Linked DNA regions of Homo sapiens. The protein of the gene in region 1 purifies or fractionates together with the protein of each later gene. This does not show direct contact. Each region holds a gene or a part of one and is shown on either strand. Other genes may lie near its edges.

Region 1 (4,304 bases):
AAAACCTCCTCTCTTCCTTCACACCTTCCTCTGAATCCCACCCGGTCCCACCTCCTGAACCTATCCAGACACCTTCTCCTGACCCAGGCACCACCTGCTTTCGGGGCGATGGCCGTAGCCTCCTCCCAGGCACCTGTCTGCATCCCTCTGGCCAGTGCATGCTGAGCACGTGACCTACCCGTGTTGGGACACGTGAGGATACAGCCTTGACCCCCAGGGGCTGACATTCTAGGGGGAGATAGAAGGAGACAAACGTAGAAGGTAGAATAAGTGGGTGGTGGAGTGGCAGGGAGTGCTGAGTGCCACAGGAAGTCAGACAAGGAAGGAGAGTGTGGGGCAGGTGCCGTTTAAATGGGGGGCGCTGGGGTCTCCTCACAGTTGCTTCTCAGCTCAGCTGTGCCAGGATCTTGTTGAGTCAGGTCAGCTGCCCACAGCCCTCTTGCCTGACCCCTGAAGCCCAGAACTCTGATCTTCACAGCCCTAGGTATGGCCCCAGCACCCCACTGCCCTCTCTCCTGCCCCAGCCGACTGCTGTTCCCAGACTTCCCTGGCCACGCTCCAAGACGCCAGCTCTGCCGCGGGCACTTTGTTCTCACGGTGTCCTCCATGCCTGCAGGGCCCATGCATGGGAAGTTGCGTTGGCGGCCTGGGTGTTGGCGGTTCCGTGCCTGCTCCAACTCTCCGTGAGGCCCCTCTCCCAGAGCCTGACACACTCTGTGGCCGAACTCTAGGCAGGTGCCCCTGAGTCCTTTCCTCGACGAGGCCTGACCCCATCCCCATCCTCGCTGGGCCCGCCGACCCCGGTGTTAGCAAGAATCCTCTAAATCAGTTTATGGAGAATTACCCACCCTCGATATCTGATCCCATTCCTCATCTCCCACCCTTGATCTCATCACCCTGCCGGCCTCCTGCAAGATCCTCATTGAGCCACTCCAGTGAGAATCCCCCTACCCTCGAAGGCCGCCCTAACAACTTCCCATCCGCTGACCCCTCCAACGCCATCAATCTCCAGCTGTGGTTGTTGAACTCGGAGGTGAGCTCCTCTCACCACTCTCTTGAATAAAGCTTTTCTCACCATTTTAACAAGTCCTCAGAATCATCTTTTCTTAACAAGCTCCTGCCCCACCCAGAATCACGGGGGGCCTGGGGACAAGTTTTCACCTCCTGAGATCCAGTGGGGCAGCCGGGGAAGGGGTGGTGCAGAGGGGGCGTGTGCTTGAGGGTGGGGTCTTGGGTCTGCCCCTACTTGTGGGACCCCACAGAGGGGTCTAAGGCCAGGGCCCAAGTGGGAGGCTGGGCCCACAGATAACCCTAGGCAGGTCAGCGGCTCGGGACAGGAGTGTGAGGCTGAGTCAGGGCCAGAGGATGTGGGACTGCTGGGGGCTGCTGCTGTGCTGACACATTAACTCCCTGAGGCCGGGAGGAGGGTGGATGGTCATTTATTACTGCGGACACTTATGTAACCTGGGGTGTATATAGGAGCCTGGCTGAGGACACACTCGCCAGCCTGTGCTTTGCCACCTGAGCGCCGCTCCCTCTCAGGATGAAGGTGACGGTGGTGAGTACCCAGACCCCATGCAGAGAGGCTCTGCTGACTGCTCTCCTGGTGGCCAGCCACTCCCGCCCTCTTCTAGCTGGCACTGGCCAGCCCTCCTCCTCCGTCCAGCTGGGCAAGAGCCAGCGGCTGCCGACCCCCAGGCTCCCTGTGGACTCAGTCTCCTCCCAAAGCCACTTCCACCCCTCAAGGGTGGCCATGGGTGCCGCTCAGGCGTGGTGTCCCCTGTACCCCGGAAGCAGACGTCTGCTGACTTTCGCTTTGCAGATGAGGACCTGGGAGTGAGAGCTCCTGGGACTCGCTGAGGCCAGGGCAGGGGCTGGGATGATGGCGTGGGAGAGGCTGTGTCCTCGCGTGTCACCCACCAGCCCTCGAGCAGAGGCAGGCTTGGAGTCTGCAGCCACCCTGGGAATGTCTGTGCTTCCTCGTGGAGCTGACATGATGGTGAAATAGGTTCAATCCTCCACCTACCCAGGGCCCAGACCCTTCCCTGGTCTACCGACCTGATGTGGACCCAGAGGTGGCCAAAGACAAGGCCAGCTTCCGGAACTACACGGTGAGTACCTTGCCGTCCTGCCCCCCTTCTCCCCCATCCACACCCTGGGGAGCAGCACTTGCCCTTCACACAGTTCCAGGGGGTGCCCTGTGGGAACTCCCACCCCCATCACACCCTGTGGGGCTGCCTGGGAGAGGGGAGGCATGGGGCCTCGTGTGCAGGGTGGGGGTGGCGCCACTGACCCTCCGGCCTGCAGTCAGGTCCCCTCCTGGACCGTGTCTTCACCACCTACAAGCTCATGCACACGCACCAGACAGTGGACTTCGTCAGGAGCAAGGTAGGCGTTTCCTGCCGCCCCGTGCAAACGCGGAGGGACCCTTGCCCTCAGCCCCATGAGCCCACCAGGCGCCGAGGGGATGGAGAGGCCTGTGTGGTGGGCCTGCTGACCCTGGGCCACACTGCCTTCTCCTTCCCCGCCAGCATGCCCAGTTTGGGGGCTTCTCCTACAAGAAAATGACAGTCATGGAGGCCGTGGACCTGCTGGATGGGCTGGTGGATGAGTCGGACCCGGACGTAGATTTCCCCAACTCCTTCCATGCCTTCCAGACAGCGGAGGGCATCCGGAAGGCCCACCCAGACAAGGGTGAGCCCTGGCTGTGCTGCAGGGGGGCAGGTGCTGCCTCCAAGGGGCAGAATGCAGCAGCCTGTAGGGTGGGAGGGGACAGTAGTGGGCCCAGGCCTCCTCCAGCAGCCCTGCCTGGGTTGGGGAGCAGGCCCTGGACCCTTCCTGGCTCTCAGCCCCGCAAACCTGCTCATCCTCTGCCTTGGCCCCTGCAGTCCCCAACCTGCCCTGTCCATCCCCCTCCCAGACTGGTTCCACCTCGTCGGGCTCCTGCACGACCTGGGGAAGGTCCTGGCCCTGTTCGGGGAGCCCCAGGTAAGAGTTGGAAGTGGAGGGTGAGGAGGCTGCATGTTGAGGCAAGGTGGGGGTGGAGTGGCCTTGGTGCTTGGCCTGGGATACTACCTGGGGGACAGGCCAGTGCACCCCCCACGGCCCCCCGACGGCTGCCTGTCCCTCTGGTGGCCTCGGTGCTTGGCCTGGGATACTACCTGGGGGACAGGCCAGTGCACCCCCCACGGCCCCCCCCACGGCTGCCTGTCCCTCTGGTGGCCTCGGTGCTTGGCCTGGGATACTACCTGGGGGACAGGCCAGTGCACCCCCCACGGCCTCCCCGCACCACTCCCCCCACGGCCCCCCATGGCCGCCTGTCCCTCCTGTCACTCTGCAGTGGGCGGTCGTCGGCGACACCTTCCCCCACTTCCCCCACGGCCCCCCATGGCTGCCTGTCCCTCCTGTCCCTCCTGTCCCTCCCATCCCTCCCGTCCCTCCTGTCCCTCCCGTCCCTCCCATCCCTCCTGTCCCTCTGCAGTGGGCAGTCATCGGCAACATCTTCCCCCACTCCCCCCATGGCCGCCCGTCCCTCCTGTCCCTCTGCAGTGGGCAGTCATCGGTGACACCTTCCCCCACTCCCCCCATGGCCGCCCGTCCCTCCTGTCCTTCTGCAGTGGGTGGTCATCGGCGACACCTTCCCCCACTCCCCCCATGGCCTCCCGTCCCTCCTGTCCCTCTGCAGTGGGCTGTCGTCGGCGACACCTTCCCCGTCGGATGCCGTCCGCAGGCCTCCGTGGTTTTCTGCGACTCCACCTTCCAGGACAACCCTGACCTCCAGGATCCTCGATACAGGTGCTCCCTGCTGCTGAGGGCTGGGCCCCCTTCCCTGGGCGGCTGCTGAGCCCTCCTCACCCTGGTATCTCACTGCAGCACAGAGCTCGGGATGTATCAGCCCCACTGTGGGCTCGACAGGGTCCTCATGTCCTGGGGCCATGATGGTGAGGCCAGAGGCGGGCAGTGGGGCGGTGGGGGGCGGTGGGGGACGGTGGGGGGCGGTGGGGCAGAGGCAGTGCCTGCTGGTGACACCCTCTCCCCACAGAGTACATGTACCAGGTGATGAAGTTTAACAAGTTCTCACTGCCCCCTGAGGTAGGTGGGGGGAGGGGCAACGCAGCCCGTCCACCAGGCCCGGTCCTGCAGCCCCAAGTGAGCCGCTGGGTGGCCTTGCCCGCAGGCTTTCTACATGATCCGGTTCCACTCCTTCTACCCCTGGCACACGGGCCGCGACTACCAGCAGCTGTGCAGCCAGCAGGACCTGGCCATGCTGCCCTGGGTGCGGGAGTTCAAGTACGCCCCGCTAC
Region 2 (3,725 bases), on another chromosome or scaffold:
GGTTGAGATTCAATCCTTGCATAATGGTTATTTTCAGATTATTTTATGGCGGGAAGGGGAGATGCTTCTAACTTTTTCCCTTGATTATGAAGTATCTTACAGTTCTTTGAAGACAATAATAAATATGGCTAGTGTTTCTTGAGTACAGTCAGCCCTGTACTCAGTATCTGTGGGTTCTGCATCTCTGGATTCAACCAACCTCTGATTGAAAATATTCAAGAAAAAAATTGCATCTGTACTGAACATGTAGACTTTTCCCCATGGATTTTGGTATCTGGGGAAGGTCTTGGAACCAGTTCCCTATAGATACATAGGGACAACTGTACTTACCATGTGCCAGGCATGTTGCTGGCACTTCACATTTAGTGACTCATTTAATCCCTTGAACAACCCTATGGGAAAGGCTCTATAATTATACCCAATCCATAGATGAAGAAAGTGAGGCACAGAGAGGTTAAGTAACTGACTCAGTGTCACACAGCTAGAAAACGATAGCCAGGATTTGAACCCAGACAGGCTGTGTCCAGAGCCACAGAGAGTTCTTCACTGCCATGCTTTTCTGTCCTGTTGATGTCCTTTGCCTTAAACTTGCGTCATCTTCTCTAGGCTCTCTGATGAAATGCCCTAAAAGTGGGCAGTTATTAAATGATTTTCAAGTGGAAAACTGCATGGGAGTTTAGGAAAACAAGTAGTCCACACCCTAGAAATGTTGAAAACTCCGCAGGAAAATGTTCATCAGCTTTTGAACATGCCACTGATTTGGCCGGGTGCAGTGGCTCATGCCTGTAATCCCAGCACTTTGGGAGGCCGAGGTGGGCGGATCACGAGGTCAGGAGATGGAGACCATCCTGGCTAACACGGTGAAACCCCCATCTCTACTAAAAATACAAAAAATGAGCCGGGCATGGTGGCGGGCACCTGTAGTCCCAGCTACTCGGGAGGCTGAGGCAGGAGAAGGGCGTGAACCCAGGAGGCGGAGCTTGCAGTGAGCTGAGATCGCGCCACTGCACTCCAGCCTGGGCGACAGAGCAAGACTCCGTCTCAAAAAAAAACCAAAAAAAAAACATGCCACTAATTTTTATTTGATTTGCTTTTTTTGGGAAAGCCAAGCGCCTTCTGTTTCCTTCTAAAAATGTGTGTGTGTGTTTTTGTTGTTGTTGTTGTTTTTTGAGATGGAGTCTTGCTCTGTCGCCCAGGCTGGAGTGCAATGGTGTGATCTCGGCTCACTGCAACCTCCACCTCCCAGGTTCAAGCGATTCTCCTGCCTTAGCCTCCCAAGTAGCTGGGACTACAGGCGCCTGCCACCACACCCGGCTAATTTTTGATATTTTTAGTAGAGATGGGGTTTCACCTTGTTGGCCAGAATGGTCTCGATTTCCAGACCTTGTGATCCACCCGTCACAGCCTCCCAAAGTGCTGGGATTACAGGTGTGAGCCGTCATGCCCGGCCCATAAAGTGTGGTTTCTAAAGCTGGTTGTCCCAACTTCATGAGGATAGTAGGAAGGTTTACATACTAAAGCACTTAGGGCCATGTGCTCATGCCTGTAATCCCAGCACTTTGGGAGGCCGAGGCAGGTGGATACCTGAGGTCAGGAGTTCGAGACCAGCCTGGGCAACATAGTGAAACCCTGTCTCTAATAAAATCCAAAAATTAGCTGGGCGTGGTGACATGGGCCTGTAATCGCAACTACTTGGAAGGCTGAGGCAGGAGAATCGGTTGAATCCGGGAGGTGAAGATTACGGTGAGCCACTGCACTCCAGCCTGGGTGACAGAGGGAGACTGTCTCCAAAATTGTAATAGTAATAATAAAAATATTAAAACAAAATAAAGCACTTAGAAAACAAGATGATTTGAGAAGTGTTTATTAAAAGAAAATGTGGGACTCATTTGTTTCCCTAATTCCAGCTGTCAATTAATTAGTGAAGTGTTACTTGAGGTTTTTTGATAGAATCTTCTTTTTCAGTTAAAGATTCTGAGTGCTTTGTTGGAGTTTCTTCATATCACCTATCATTTGCTTGTTAGCTTATCGATACCCATGGAACAGTTATTGACAGGACATTGGGTCGTTTTCCCAAGAGCATTCCTTGAATAAAACATTTTGCTGCCTTGCTAAGAGGTGTTCAGAAAATATTTCCACCAGGCCTAAAGTAAATCTAGCACCTCATGTCACATGACATCATGTCATCTAATGCTGCCAGTTACAGGAAAAGACATTAGAGTTTTGGGGACAAAGCCACAACACATCTGTTGAAATACAGCTAGAACAAGGGAGAAACATATGGGAATTGTCCAACTAATAGCTCTACCTTCACCCAGTCCGACTCCCTGCCTGCTCTTAAGGATTAAAATTGCCTCCGTATAAAAGCATTTTAAATTACGGCAGTTAAAGGCCGGGCGCGGTGGCTCAAGCCTGTAATCTCAGCACTTTGGGAGGCCGAGGCAGGAGGATCACGAGGTCAGGAGATCCAGACCATCCTGGCTAACATGGTGAAACCCCGTCTCTACTAAAAATACAAAAAACTAGCTGGGCGTGGTGGCTGGCACCTGTAGTCCCAGCTACTCGGGAGGATGAGGCAGGAGAATGGCATGAACCTGGGAGGCGGAGCTTCCAGTGAGCCGAGATTGTGCCACTGCACTCCAGCCTGGGCAACAGAGCAAGACTCCATCTCAATAAATAAATAAATAAACAAACAAACAAAAGAAAATACCATAAGCAGAAGACACAAAGAAGCTCCCATGGTGTGGCTCTTCATGTTTGTGGTAGATGCATTGAGACTTTTTTTTTATGCCTTCATATATATGTTTCTGATAAAACACACCTGTAATGTTTTTCACTGAAGAGTTGATTGAGAAAAGCTTTAAATATCATTTGTGGGGCCAGAGGCAAGAGTACAAATTCAGTTCCCATATCACATACCTAAACATTTAAAAGTTATAAACCATGCTTACAAATTGGTAAATAAAATGGCTTCTACTCTGCCTGGACAAATACATCTGTCATTAGGGCAGAATCAACAAACATGTTTAAAGCTATGGGTTTTATTGCTGAAAGTCAGCAAAATATCAAACATGAGTGAATTTAATTACAGTTGCCTATGTCTGGGTGTTCTGTTGATGTTTCATGAGTAATAAATACGTATACTCCATAGTATATTTTTCATAAATCTATTTTTTTGTCCATATTTTAGCAAACTCACTTGTTATGTGGTTAGAGTCAAGATTGTCACAATAGTTTGTTTTACGGACAGTAATACCAAGGTGGAGAACCTTTCTTTGTGGTTCTTAGATTGTTCTTTTTTTTTTTTTTGCTGGGACAGAGTCTTCCTCTTTCGCCCAGGCTGGAGTGTAGTGGCGCAATTTTGGCTCACTGCAACCTCCACCTCCCGAGTTCAAGCAATCCTTCTGCCTCAGCCTCCCACGTAGCTGGGATTACAAGTGTGTGCCACCATGCCTGGCTAATTTTTGTATTTACAGTAGAGACGGGGTTTCATCATGTTGGCCAGGCTGATCTGAAGCTTGTGACCTCAATTGATCCACTAGCCTTGGCCTCCGGAAGTTCTGGGATTACAGGCGTGAGCCACCCCACCTGGCCAGATTGTTCTTTTCTTAATCTAAGTCTAGAGATGGCCTGCTTTGCTGAGGCAGGACAGTAGTTACTGACATTGTCAGCGAAATTCATACAGCACTATTTAGATTAAAAAAAGAATGAGATTGCATATGATA
Region 3 (2,885 bases), on another chromosome or scaffold:
CTGGATGATGACCAAGGTTCCTTACTGCTATTGCTAGTCACAGGATTGAATCAAACAAATTACTTTGGAACCAAGTCCCCTAGTGATTAATGTATTGCTTAGAGGCAGAGAAAAATGATGGCAGCCAATGGAGGCTGCACTGCCCTGATCATCCAAGGAGGAGTCTGTGACCCTGATTTGGAGAGAGCAAGGTGGCTATTCATTTTCCTTGGCGAGTCTAATTATTCTCCTAAGTACTGAGCTCCTGGAAGGCTGAGGCTATGCCTCTTTTGTCTGCCTGGAACACGTGGTTGCTTGAATATGTTATGAGTGAATGAACTCCCTCTGTCCTATTCAGAGCTGAGAAGATGGGGGCCTTCTCAAGAGGGCTGAGACCACCCTTCTTCATCTTCCTAGAGTTATAGGCCTGCCTCTATTGTTTCAAACATCTTTGCTTACTCCTAGAGAGAGCAGGGGAAGAAGCGATGAGTGGGGTGTGTCTGGGCCATTACAGGAATTAGTGAAGGAGATGGCCCAGGAAAAGGCTCAGGAAGGGAGTATGTGGAGCTGTGTGTTCTGTAGATCAAATTGAGTTTGTGGCTTTCTCAGTCTGCAGGAGAATGGGGATGGGAGTGGGCAGTACCATAAACAGACGAAGGAATTTATTCTTGAAACTGATCTGGGAGGACTCTAAGATTTGTAATAAGTCTTTCACTATGCTTTGTTAATTTAAAAGGGTGAAAATACTCTTAATTTGACCTGTTTGTTTTCTTTAGCTTTTCAGTGTTCCCACCGAGGAGGAGAGCTGGGAATTTCCCTTCGTCCAGACGGAAGGGTTGACATTAGAGGAGGTGCAGCTGTTGTTTTAGAGGGCACACTGACAGCCTAGAGGTGGTTATGCTGTGACGCTGCTGTCTCTAACCACCAAGTATTTTCTGCTTAAAAAGAAATGTAAGGGGCTGCCTTTAGCAAATGTGCGTAGTAGTCTACTTAATCCTCATGTTAAAAATCGAAAAATGGGCCAGGCGCAGTGGCTCATGCCTGTAATCGTAGCACTTTGAGAGGCCAAGGTGGGTGGATCACCTGAGGTCAGGGGTTCGACACCAGCCTGGCCAACATGGTGAAACCTCGTCTCTACTACAAATACAAAAATTAGCTGGGTGTGGTGCCACATGCCTGTAATTCCAGCTACTTGGGAGGCTGAGGCATGGAGAATCGCTTGAACCCAGGAGGCAGAAGTTGCAGTGAGCAGAGATCACACCACTGCACTCCAGCCTGGGCAACAGAGTAAGACTCCATCCACACACACACACACACACACAAAATTGAAAAGTGAAGACATTTTAATGGAGATTTAATAGTGCTTCCAGACTAATGAACTAATGGAGTTTTGGCTCCACTCATGAGTGTATTTGAAATGTAAGTAACCAGCTACAAAGAATAATGTCACTTCATTTGATTATGACTACCAATCAAGAGAAGGAGGAATACATTTCTGAGGAGTGATACTAAACCATTTGAGCTTAAATGAGTACCTGATTTTGCAGCCATTAAAATGAGTCAATAACTATGTGGAAATATAGAAAAATATTTTATAATATAATACTAAGAAAGAGGACAGTAGGCCATAAAGTGTTAGCAGTGTTATGCTATGTCTATATAAATAAGCATGGGCCATTAAAAATAGCAAACTGAAAACAGTTCATGTGTGGGGGGCAAGTTTAGAAGTAATTTTAATGTATCTAAGAAGTGATTTCCTTTATTGTTGTACTCAGGTACGAAGACTAAAAATCAGGATGAATCCAGAAAATTAACACAAAAAAGTATGTATTAGGCTACTTCCTGTCATAGTGAAATTAAACACTCAAAGTAATGTAATCTCAGCTGGGCGTGGCGGCTCATGCCTGTAATCCCAGCACTTTGGCAGGACAAGGCAGGAGGATCACTTGAACCTAGGAGTTCGAGACCAGCCTGGGCAACACAGCGAGAACTTGTCTCTATTAAAAAAAAAAAAAGGAATGTAATTTCAATCTTTTTCTTGATATATGGCTTGAGAATGATAATGTAAAAGGAATTCTTCTCTTACTTCAATAAAATGGGTTTTAACATAACTTTAAATTCAGTTAAATATACAATATTGAATACCTATAGTTGACTTTGGGATGGGGACTTTTTCAAGTCATTAAGAGTGTTTGTTTAAGGTGATCTCATTGATGGTAGTTCTCAGCCGTCTCAAAAACTGCAAGCTAATCAGTCAGACATTCTTTAATGACCCCAATTTTTTCACTTTAATTGTTACCATGTTTTCTATTTTTACTGATTTTTGCTAAAGCATGTAAGAGTGAATTTATTATAGCAGTAATCTTGTGTTTCTCCTGATGTGCAATAAATCAATAATTCACCAGCTTTAATGCCTTAACTTACTGAGTAACCAGTGCCCCACCGCCCCCCAGAAGACCTCACAACTCATCACAACACACCCACGGGTCATGATACCAAGGGCGAGAATCACCAGAGGGTTTTCCCCCAATTTTGGATTTTCCAAACCTGAGACTGAACTATATGAATAAGTTTATATAAATGTACAGTTGAGAGGGCCTGAATTTGATCAGATCTGAATCTGATCTTTCAAATGTATGCTAAATTCTTTTTTTTTTTTGAGACAGAGTCTTGCTCTGTCGCCCAGGCTGGTGCCATCTTGGCTCACTGCAACCTCCGCCTTCCAGGTTCAAATGATTCTCATGACACAGCCTCCAAAGTAGCTGGGATTACAGGTGCTCACCACCATGCCTGGCTAATTTTTGTATTTTTAGTAGAGATGGGATTTCACCATGTTGGCCAGGCTGGTCTCAAACTCCTGGCCTCAAGTGATCCACCTGTTGTGGCCTCCCAAAGTGCTAGGACTA

Evidence for each region.
Region 2: the proteins of MIOX (region 1) and MYO10 purify together in Homo sapiens (affinity purification with mass spectrometry; one large-scale study listed by BioGRID and IntAct). This does not show direct contact.
Region 3: the proteins of MIOX (region 1) and PBLD purify together in Homo sapiens (affinity purification with mass spectrometry; one large-scale study listed by BioGRID and IntAct). This does not show direct contact.

Annotation. Positions count from the first base shown.
Region 1 is NC_000022.11:50,485,355-50,489,658, forward strand, and holds the start of MIOX (inositol oxygenase), read left to right. Parts: upstream 1-1,504; 5' UTR 1,505-1,543; coding exon 1,544-1,558; intron 1,559-2,027; exon of another isoform or gene 2,028-2,030; coding exon 2,031-2,111; intron 2,112-2,307; coding exon 2,308-2,388; intron 2,389-2,531; coding exon 2,532-2,694; intron 2,695-2,888; coding exon of another isoform or gene 2,889-2,920; coding exon 2,921-2,988; intron 2,989-3,340; coding exon of another isoform or gene 3,341-3,566; exon of another isoform or gene 3,567-3,659; intron 3,660-3,685; coding exon 3,686-3,795; intron 3,796-3,873; coding exon 3,874-3,941; intron 3,942-4,042; coding exon 4,043-4,092; intron 4,093-4,177; coding exon 4,178-4,290; intron 4,291-4,304.
Region 2 is NC_000005.10:16,926,289-16,930,013, reverse strand, and holds part of MYO10 (unconventional myosin-X), read left to right. Parts: intron 1-3,725. UniProt on the Homo sapiens protein: Myosins are actin-based motor molecules with ATPase activity. Unconventional myosins serve in intracellular movements. MYO10 binds to actin filaments and actin bundles and functions as a plus end-directed motor.
Region 3 is NC_000010.11:68,282,160-68,285,044, reverse strand, and holds the end of PBLD (phenazine biosynthesis-like domain-containing protein), read left to right. Parts: intron 1-755; coding exon 756-868; 3' UTR 869-2,385; downstream 2,386-2,885.